Homo sapiens: one gene and its partner. The protein of the gene in region 1 purifies or fractionates together with the protein of each later gene. This does not show direct contact. Each region holds a gene or a part of one and is shown on either strand. Other genes may lie near its edges.

What was found. The genes of interacting proteins can lie anywhere in the genome.
Region 2: the proteins of FAM90A1 (region 1) and SUFU purify together in Homo sapiens (affinity purification with mass spectrometry; 4 studies listed by BioGRID and IntAct, with this or other methods). This does not show direct contact.

What each region holds. Positions count from the first base shown.
Region 1 is NC_000012.12:8,225,410-8,229,157, reverse strand, and holds the start of FAM90A1 (protein FAM90A1), read left to right. Parts: upstream 1-1,539; 5' UTR 1,540-1,678; intron 1,679-2,679; 5' UTR 2,680-2,886; intron 2,887-3,143; exon of another isoform or gene 3,144-3,165; 5' UTR 3,166-3,322; intron 3,323-3,748.
Region 2 is NC_000010.11:102,506,849-102,510,496, reverse strand, and holds part of SUFU (suppressor of fused homolog), read right to left. Parts: intron 2,219-3,648; exon of another isoform or gene 1,591-2,218; intron 1,329-1,590; coding exon 1,194-1,328; intron 1-1,193. UniProt on the Homo sapiens protein: Negative regulator in the hedgehog/smoothened signaling pathway. Down-regulates GLI1-mediated transactivation of target genes. Down-regulates GLI2-mediated transactivation of target genes. Part of a corepressor complex that acts on DNA-bound GLI1.

The sequences.
Region 1 (3,748 bases):
CAATCTCAGCTCCCTGCAACCTTCACCTCCCAGGTTCACCTCCCGCCTGTAATCCCAGCATTTTGGGAGGCCAAGGCGGGTGGATCACCTGAGGTCAGGAGTTCAAGACCAGCCCGGCCAACATGGTGAAACCCCATCTCTACTAAAAAAAAATACAAAATTAGCGAAGCTAATTCGTGGCAGGTGCCTGTAATCCCAGCTACTCAGGAGGCTGAGGCAGGAGAATCGCTTGAACCCGGGAAGGCAGAGGTTGCAGTGAGCCAAGATCGCGCCATTGCACTCCAGCCTGGGCTACAAGAGCGAAACTCCGTCTCAAAATAATAATAATAATAATAATAATAATAATAATAATAATAATAACAAGAGCGAAACTCCGTCTCAAAATAATAATAATAATAATAATAATAATAATAAACCACATCACACCCACCACAAACCAGCTGTCAGTGTGAAAATAAAGCCAAATAGCTTAACATTTCTAAAGACTAGCTGGGGCTAGGCATGATGGGTCAGGCCTGGAATCTCAGCACTTAGGGAGGCCAAGGCGAGAGGATCACTTGAGGTCAGGAGTTCAAGACCAGCCTGGCCAACATGGTGAAACCCTGTCTCTGCTAAAAATACAAAAATAAGCCAGGTGTTGTGGCGGGCTCCTGTAATCCTGTAATCTACTTGGGAGGCTGAGGTGGGTGAATCGCTTGAACCCAGGAGGCGGAGGTTGCATGAACTGAGATCGTGCACTCCAGCCTAGGCAACGGAGCAAGACTGTCTAAAACAAAGACTAGCTGGAGAATCCTGCCAGGAAAAGGCCCTCAGACTCCAACTGCTCTGCTCACTCGAAGCTGGAAGATGCGGCTCTAGAGACGCATCAGGACCAAGCCACGACTCCCCACTTGGAGAAATCAACGCGGAAAGAGACGGAGGCAAAGGAGAACCATCGCACTGGGAGAGGCGACGCTGTTTGACACATCGTCCCTGTACCTCCCAAAGCCACTGCCCTCCCACACCTGGGCAACAGTGGCCCCAACCCCAGGCCCAGCCCTCCTGCAGGAAGGAAGAGGACTGAATGGAGGGCGTGGCAGACTGAAAGGACGTGGCCTCCTCAAACCCCTTGGTAAAGGGCCTCTGGGGCCACCTGGCAGGGAGGGGCTGGCACACCAGGAAGTAGCCTCCTCCCGGGAGTTCAGCTAGAGCCCAGGTCCTGTCCCCAAGTGGCCTCCAGAGCCACCTTTTCTGAAAAAAGTACATCCTGCCCACCCCTGTTCCCCCTGCTTAAGGCCCCGCGTCCTCCCTGAGCCTCCTGCTGGCCTCTCACCTAGAAGCGGGGGTAGTCCTCGGCCCTCCAGCCAGGGGGTGCAGACCTGGATGTGCTGGAAATGCTTCTGGTGGATGAGGCGGCTGTAATACTCCCTCAGAGGCCCTTTGCCTTCACAGAGAAAAGCAGACACTGCCATGGACCCGTCTCTCTCCGTGCCACGTGGCCCCAGGCCCAAGACACTCCCCCTAGGAGGGATCCTTTTCCCAGAAGCTCCACCCCTCGGCAGCTCCAGTCAGGCCCCATCCGGGCCCTTCCAGAAGCAACCCAGGAGCCCCGAGACCTGCAGGGATGTGTGCACCCTGACCCCTGACGCATAGCCCTGCACCTGCAGCCAGCTGGCCTCGGGCTTGAAAACATGGCGGGGTAAGCACTGGCCTGGCACCCGACCGCCCACTGGGTGGACCCAGCCTTCTGTCTGTGTTGTGCGCAGGGGACACGAGGACTCCCGCTGCCCTGACACAGCCCCCAGATCACATGGCGCAGGTTCCAAGCCGCCCCTGCCCTGCCACAGCCCCCAGAGCACACGGCGCAGGTTCCAAACCACTCCTGGGAGCCTAGAGGCCAAAGGAGGGAGGAGAGCAGGACCAGCAGCTGGCCCAGACCCCGCCTCTTCCCACACCGCTTCTGCTTTTCCCCCTCCTCACTGAGTCATCTTGAAAGGGCTCAGCAGCAGTAACTGAGGGACAGGGGCTCTTCCGTTTGAAAAATTAAAAGAGGCTTGGTTAAGGCAACAATGACATGACCGGGCACAATGGCTCATATCAATAATTCCAGCATATTGGGAGGCCAAGGCAGGTGGATCACCTGAGGTCAGGAGTTCAAGACCAGCCTGGCCAACATGGTGAAACCCTGTTTCTACTAAAAATACCAAAATAAGCTGGGTGTAGTGGGCACCTGTAGTCCCAGCTACTCGGGAGGCTGAGGCATGAGAATTGCTTGACTGTGAGACGCGGAGGTTGCAGTGAGCTGAGATCACACCACTGCACCCCAGCCTGGGCGACAGAGACTGTGTCTCAAAAAAAAAAAAAAAAAAAAAAAAAGACATCAATGAAGAAACAAGAAAAAAAAAAAGATGCTTGGAAACTACTGAAAAATTAGAAAGCTTGGTATGTACAGATTCACATCTGGGCTCCCTGCCCTGCTGTGAAACCCTCTGAGCTTCAGTTTCCCACATGTAAAGCAGTATAAGACCCTATGGCAGAGAGCTGCAGTGGGGATTAAGGAGACAAGATCGTGGGAAGCACAAGGTAAAGGCGGCGTGCCCCTCCCTGGACTCCAATGCCTGGAGTCTCAAGACCAGCTGAAAAGGGAGCCAGGCACTGAAGGACAAAGCGGTGTTGACTTTCTTCATCTGTGTTTCCCAGTGCGCTCCAATTCACGGTGGTTTCCAAGCGCATTCTGGAGGAGAAAACACATGAGTGTGTGGTCAGGGTTCTCTGCTGACAGACCTACCGTGGGGAAGAAAGAGAAGCTCTGAAGATGGATCATGGCCGTGACTGCATGTCAAGGAGAATCTCCATGATGACACGGAGGCCTACGTCGAGATAGAGTAAATATGGTCCAATTAAAAGGTGTCTATTTTACCACATTTTTTAAAACAAAACAAAACACAAAAACAAAAAAGATGGAAAAGAAGACAGGGGTACAGGCACCAGTGTTACATATCTGACGGGGAACATCTATTCTTCAAAGCTTGCAGCTGTACACGTAGGTTTTAGAATGTCTGTCAGCAGTGGACATGATCTTAGAGTGGGCTGTGCAGATAGACCTTTCCGAGTCATGTAATTGGATTAAGTTAATTGTAATTAACCTACATGTAACTGATTAGGTTAGGGTACGTTCCACGTCAGGTGACCAGAGGCAGTATAAAAGGCAGCCTGGAAAGCAGAGGTCCCTCTCTGCCCCTTCCTCCGTCTTCCTGGATGCTGCATCGCTTCCAGCGGGGCTGCTCCAGCACCTGCCCATCTCAGCGCCAGCCGGGGAAAGAAAGTAGACGTGTAATTTCAGGTTAGTTTCACTGAACAGTTGTTTGTTTCACGCAATCCCTGAGGGGTGGGGGGGAAAAGAGACAAAGGAGGCCGAAAGAAAGCGATCACACTGGGGCTTGCTGATGCGGTAGGGTGTGCTCTCGTTACTAGTAATTCTTGGAACAGAAAACGAGAAAGCATTTCCGTCTCCATGTGTGGGATAAGACCAAGGTGGGAATGCGAAAAGAAATGTACTGCAGCATGCTGAATTGGTGGGTAAATGGAAAAAGGACTTTGGAAAAAAGGGTGGTTTGCCCTTCAGCCGTGTAAGACATTGATACGATATGGCACTTGTTCACCGTTCGTTTAGATGAATTCGTGTGGCATGCGTAAAATACCAGAAAAATAAATAAAGAGGGGCTGGAGCTAAAGCCAAAAAGATAGAACAGGAAAGACCATCACCTGC
Region 2 (3,648 bases), on another chromosome or scaffold:
AGTCGTCACGCCTGTAATCCCAGCACTTTGGGAGGCCGAGGCAGGCAGATCACGAGGTCAGGAGATCAAGACCATCCTGGCTAACATGGTGAAACCCCGTCTCTACTAAAAATACAAAAATTAGCTGGGCGTGGTGGTGGGTGCCTATAGTCCCAGGTACTCAGGAGGCTGAGACAGGAGAATGGCGTGAACCCGGCAGGTGGAGCTTGCAGTGAGCCAAGATCACCCCACTGCACTCCAGCCTGGGCAACAAAGCGAGACTCTGTTTCTAAAAAAAATAGTTGGTAGCTTATTGGAGTACATGATATAATTGCTCAAAAGGCAAGAGAATACAGTCATTAACAGTATGAACTCTGAGTTGGGCACAGTGGCTCACACCCATAATCCCGACACTTTGGGAAGCTGAGGTGGAAGAACTGCTTAAGCCCAGGAGTTTGAGACCAGCCTGGGCAACATGGTGAAACCCTGTCTCTACAAAAAAATTACAAAAATTAGCTGGGCATGGTGGTGCTTGCCTGTCGTCCCAGCTACTCGGGAGGCTGAGGTTGGAGGATCACCTGAGCCTAGGGAGGTCGAGGCTGCAGTGAACCATGATCATACCACTGCACTCTAGCCTGGATGACAGAGTGAGACCCTATCTCCAAAAAAAAGCATATAGGGCAACAAACGGAAGCAGACTAAGATAAAAAAATAAATAAATACAGGTTAAAAGGAAGTAGGTAAGATAGATAAAGGATAAGAGATGAACAGATTTGTGATAAAGCAAGTATAAAGTTAACAGTAGAATCTGGGTTGTGGGTATATGAGTGTTCACTATAAAATCCTTCCAACTTTGCTTTATGTTTAAAATGTTTCATAATAAGCTAGGGGAATAAAAGGAAGTAGACACAGAGGCATCAGCCCAAGTTCTGAGTCATAACCATGCTACCTTCCTGTCCTATGAGCCCAAACTCCAGGGCAAGCTTAGAAAAACCTGATTTGGGAATCCTGCTCATCAAGACTTTCCTGCACTAGATAAGCAGGAATCAGGTGTTAACGAGGACCACCTTGGCATGAGTAGATATAGTCAGAGGGCAGAAATGCAGAGGTTCCACGGAGAAGTACCATGCTCACAGCACTATGACATTGTCACCCCTGCTCAGGAAGACCTCAGGAATAAGGCTCTGGATAAAGAACAGGTGGCATATACTCACTCATGGACTCTGTTGTCACCATAGAGATCACTCAGGCCGAAGCTGATGTAGTGCCAGTGCTCGGGGATGTTAGCAGAAGGGCTCCCCACATTCCTGTACATGCTAACATAGTCCAAGGGGTCTGGGCCACCCAACCTGCAAAAAACAAAACACAGGGGTGTTAGTGTAAGCCTGGAAATCAGACAATGTCAAGCTAAGGCGCTCTACTTTGTAAACCTAAAGGACCCATCCTGGAGGAACCTGGGTGAAAGGTAACTAAACAGAGGCCACATCTCTCCAGAATGAGACTAAGGGATGGACAGCTAAGGCTGCCCAACTCTGCAAGCCCAAGAGGCTCCCTTCTCCTACCCCTGAAAGACTGGGCCTCTTTTAGAAATAAAACAGACTGGATGGTTACCCATTTTGCTTTCTCCTGTTTCAAATTACCGATCCCAAATGAGATTGGCAGGGATTGTCTCTCTTCTGTGGTGCCTGTATACATGCCAAGCTTCAAGGCAAGAGGTACATCAGTCAATCAATTGGCCTCTGTTGAAAGACCATCCCAAGCATCCCCAATGGGCATTGTTCCTGGAAGCAGAGGCTCTGCTCCACTCCAGCCTCTTAGACAGCTAATTCCTGAAAGACTATATTGTGCCCTATGTTAATTACAGTTTGTTCTAAACAAACCCAAAGCCTCTAGTCTGTGCTGACACCAGCCTGCACCCCATAGACCAAAGCTGGTCTCTTATCATTGCAAGTGACAAAGGCCAAACTTAGGCTTAACTTAGTTCTGCACAGAGAACTGCAGAAGGAGTCAAACTGCGCCCTGTGAGCATCTGCACCCAGAAAATGATCCCAGGAGAGACTGCCACATCAAAGGTAGAGCTGGGATGGTAAATGATTTGGGGCCTCTCAGGACCACATTAAATTTCCCCCACCATTCAACTGAGAAGGAGTTGCGGAAGAGATTCAGTTATTATCTCACTCTGAGGATTTAATACAATAAGAGTTCCCTTTAGTAATCAGTGCTTTTTAAAAAAAATCCTGTTTTGGCCGGGCACGGTGGCTCACACCTGTAATCTCTGCACTTTGGGAGGCCGAAGTGGGTGGATTACTTGAGGTCAGGAGTTTGAGACCAGCCTGGCCAACATGGTGAAACCCCATCTCTACTAAAGATACAAAAAATTAGCCAGGTGTGGTGGCAGGTGCCTGTAATCCCAGCTATTTGCTATTTGAGAGGCTGAGGCAGGAGAATCGCCTGGACAACAGAGGCAGAGGTTGCAGGGAGCCAAGATTGCGCCACTGCACTCCAGCCTGGGTGACAGAGTGAGACTTTGTCTAAAAAAAAAAAAAAAAAAAAAAATGGATAAGAAATTTTGGTAGCTAGAGAAATAGACCAAATAGAAACCATCAGTGGAAGGAAGTCTGCATTTAGCCCACAAACACGGCATTTGAGCTGCCTCAAACATCTGACCATTCCACAGACTGCAAAAGCTTCACCTGCCCCTGGGACATCGATGGAGTACACTTTGCAACTGGGATAGCATGCTGGTGGAAAGCTAACAACCAAATAAAAGACATGTTACAAGTGATCCCAGTCAATGGTGCCAGCACCAGGCAATTTAAACACTATTTAAAACCAGTTGGTCTTGTTTCGTCCTCTTTCACCAGGATATTATTTGCCTTTGTGGATAGAAATCCCTATTCTCTGTTAGGAAATGCTAAGTTATTTATAGAACTTTTAAGAAAGTTGCTACAAATAGCTTAGCATCTCAACAGAGGAAGAGGGACAACTCTCCATGTCTGCCTTAACTGATTTCAACAAATCACTTGACTAATTCTACAACAGGTTGGATTTAGAAAAGTTTGTGGGGCAAGGGAAGAAAGAAAAGAGTAGAGATCCCTGGAAAGACCCCATTAGAGCTACAGAACTCCAGAGCAGATGAGAGCCACTACAGGCCCCATACCTGCTCCAGTTTCCTGCTGCAAATTTCCAAACCTGCCCCGCTACAGCCTAGGTCCATCCTGCACCAAGCTGCAAAACTGTGTTTACCATTCTCTGCTCCATCTGCAGCATCCCTGCAGCCCTCTTTCTCACCAAGTCTCCCACAAGGTGTCACATCAAGGAGAGAAGCTTAACCTTCAAACTCCAACTGCAAGGAACTACCAAGAGTCAGATAAAATTAACCCTGTCCCCAAGCACAGAGTATTCTGTTTACTTACTACTCAGAGGCCAGATGAGTATGTGGAAAAAAATCGCATTTTACACTTAGCAAATGATGTTATCCAAGGTCCCAGGGCATCCCTCAACTTAATTCCTTGAACACCCAACTTCTCTCTGCAGGGCAGTTGCAGGACTGAAGTGGGCCATGAGTACAGGTTCTGCCTCTCTGCTTTGATCCTTGCTCACCAAAGTCTCAGCTTTCAGTTAGAATGTCCCCACTACTCAGGGATCACCAGTCACAGAGCCACACTG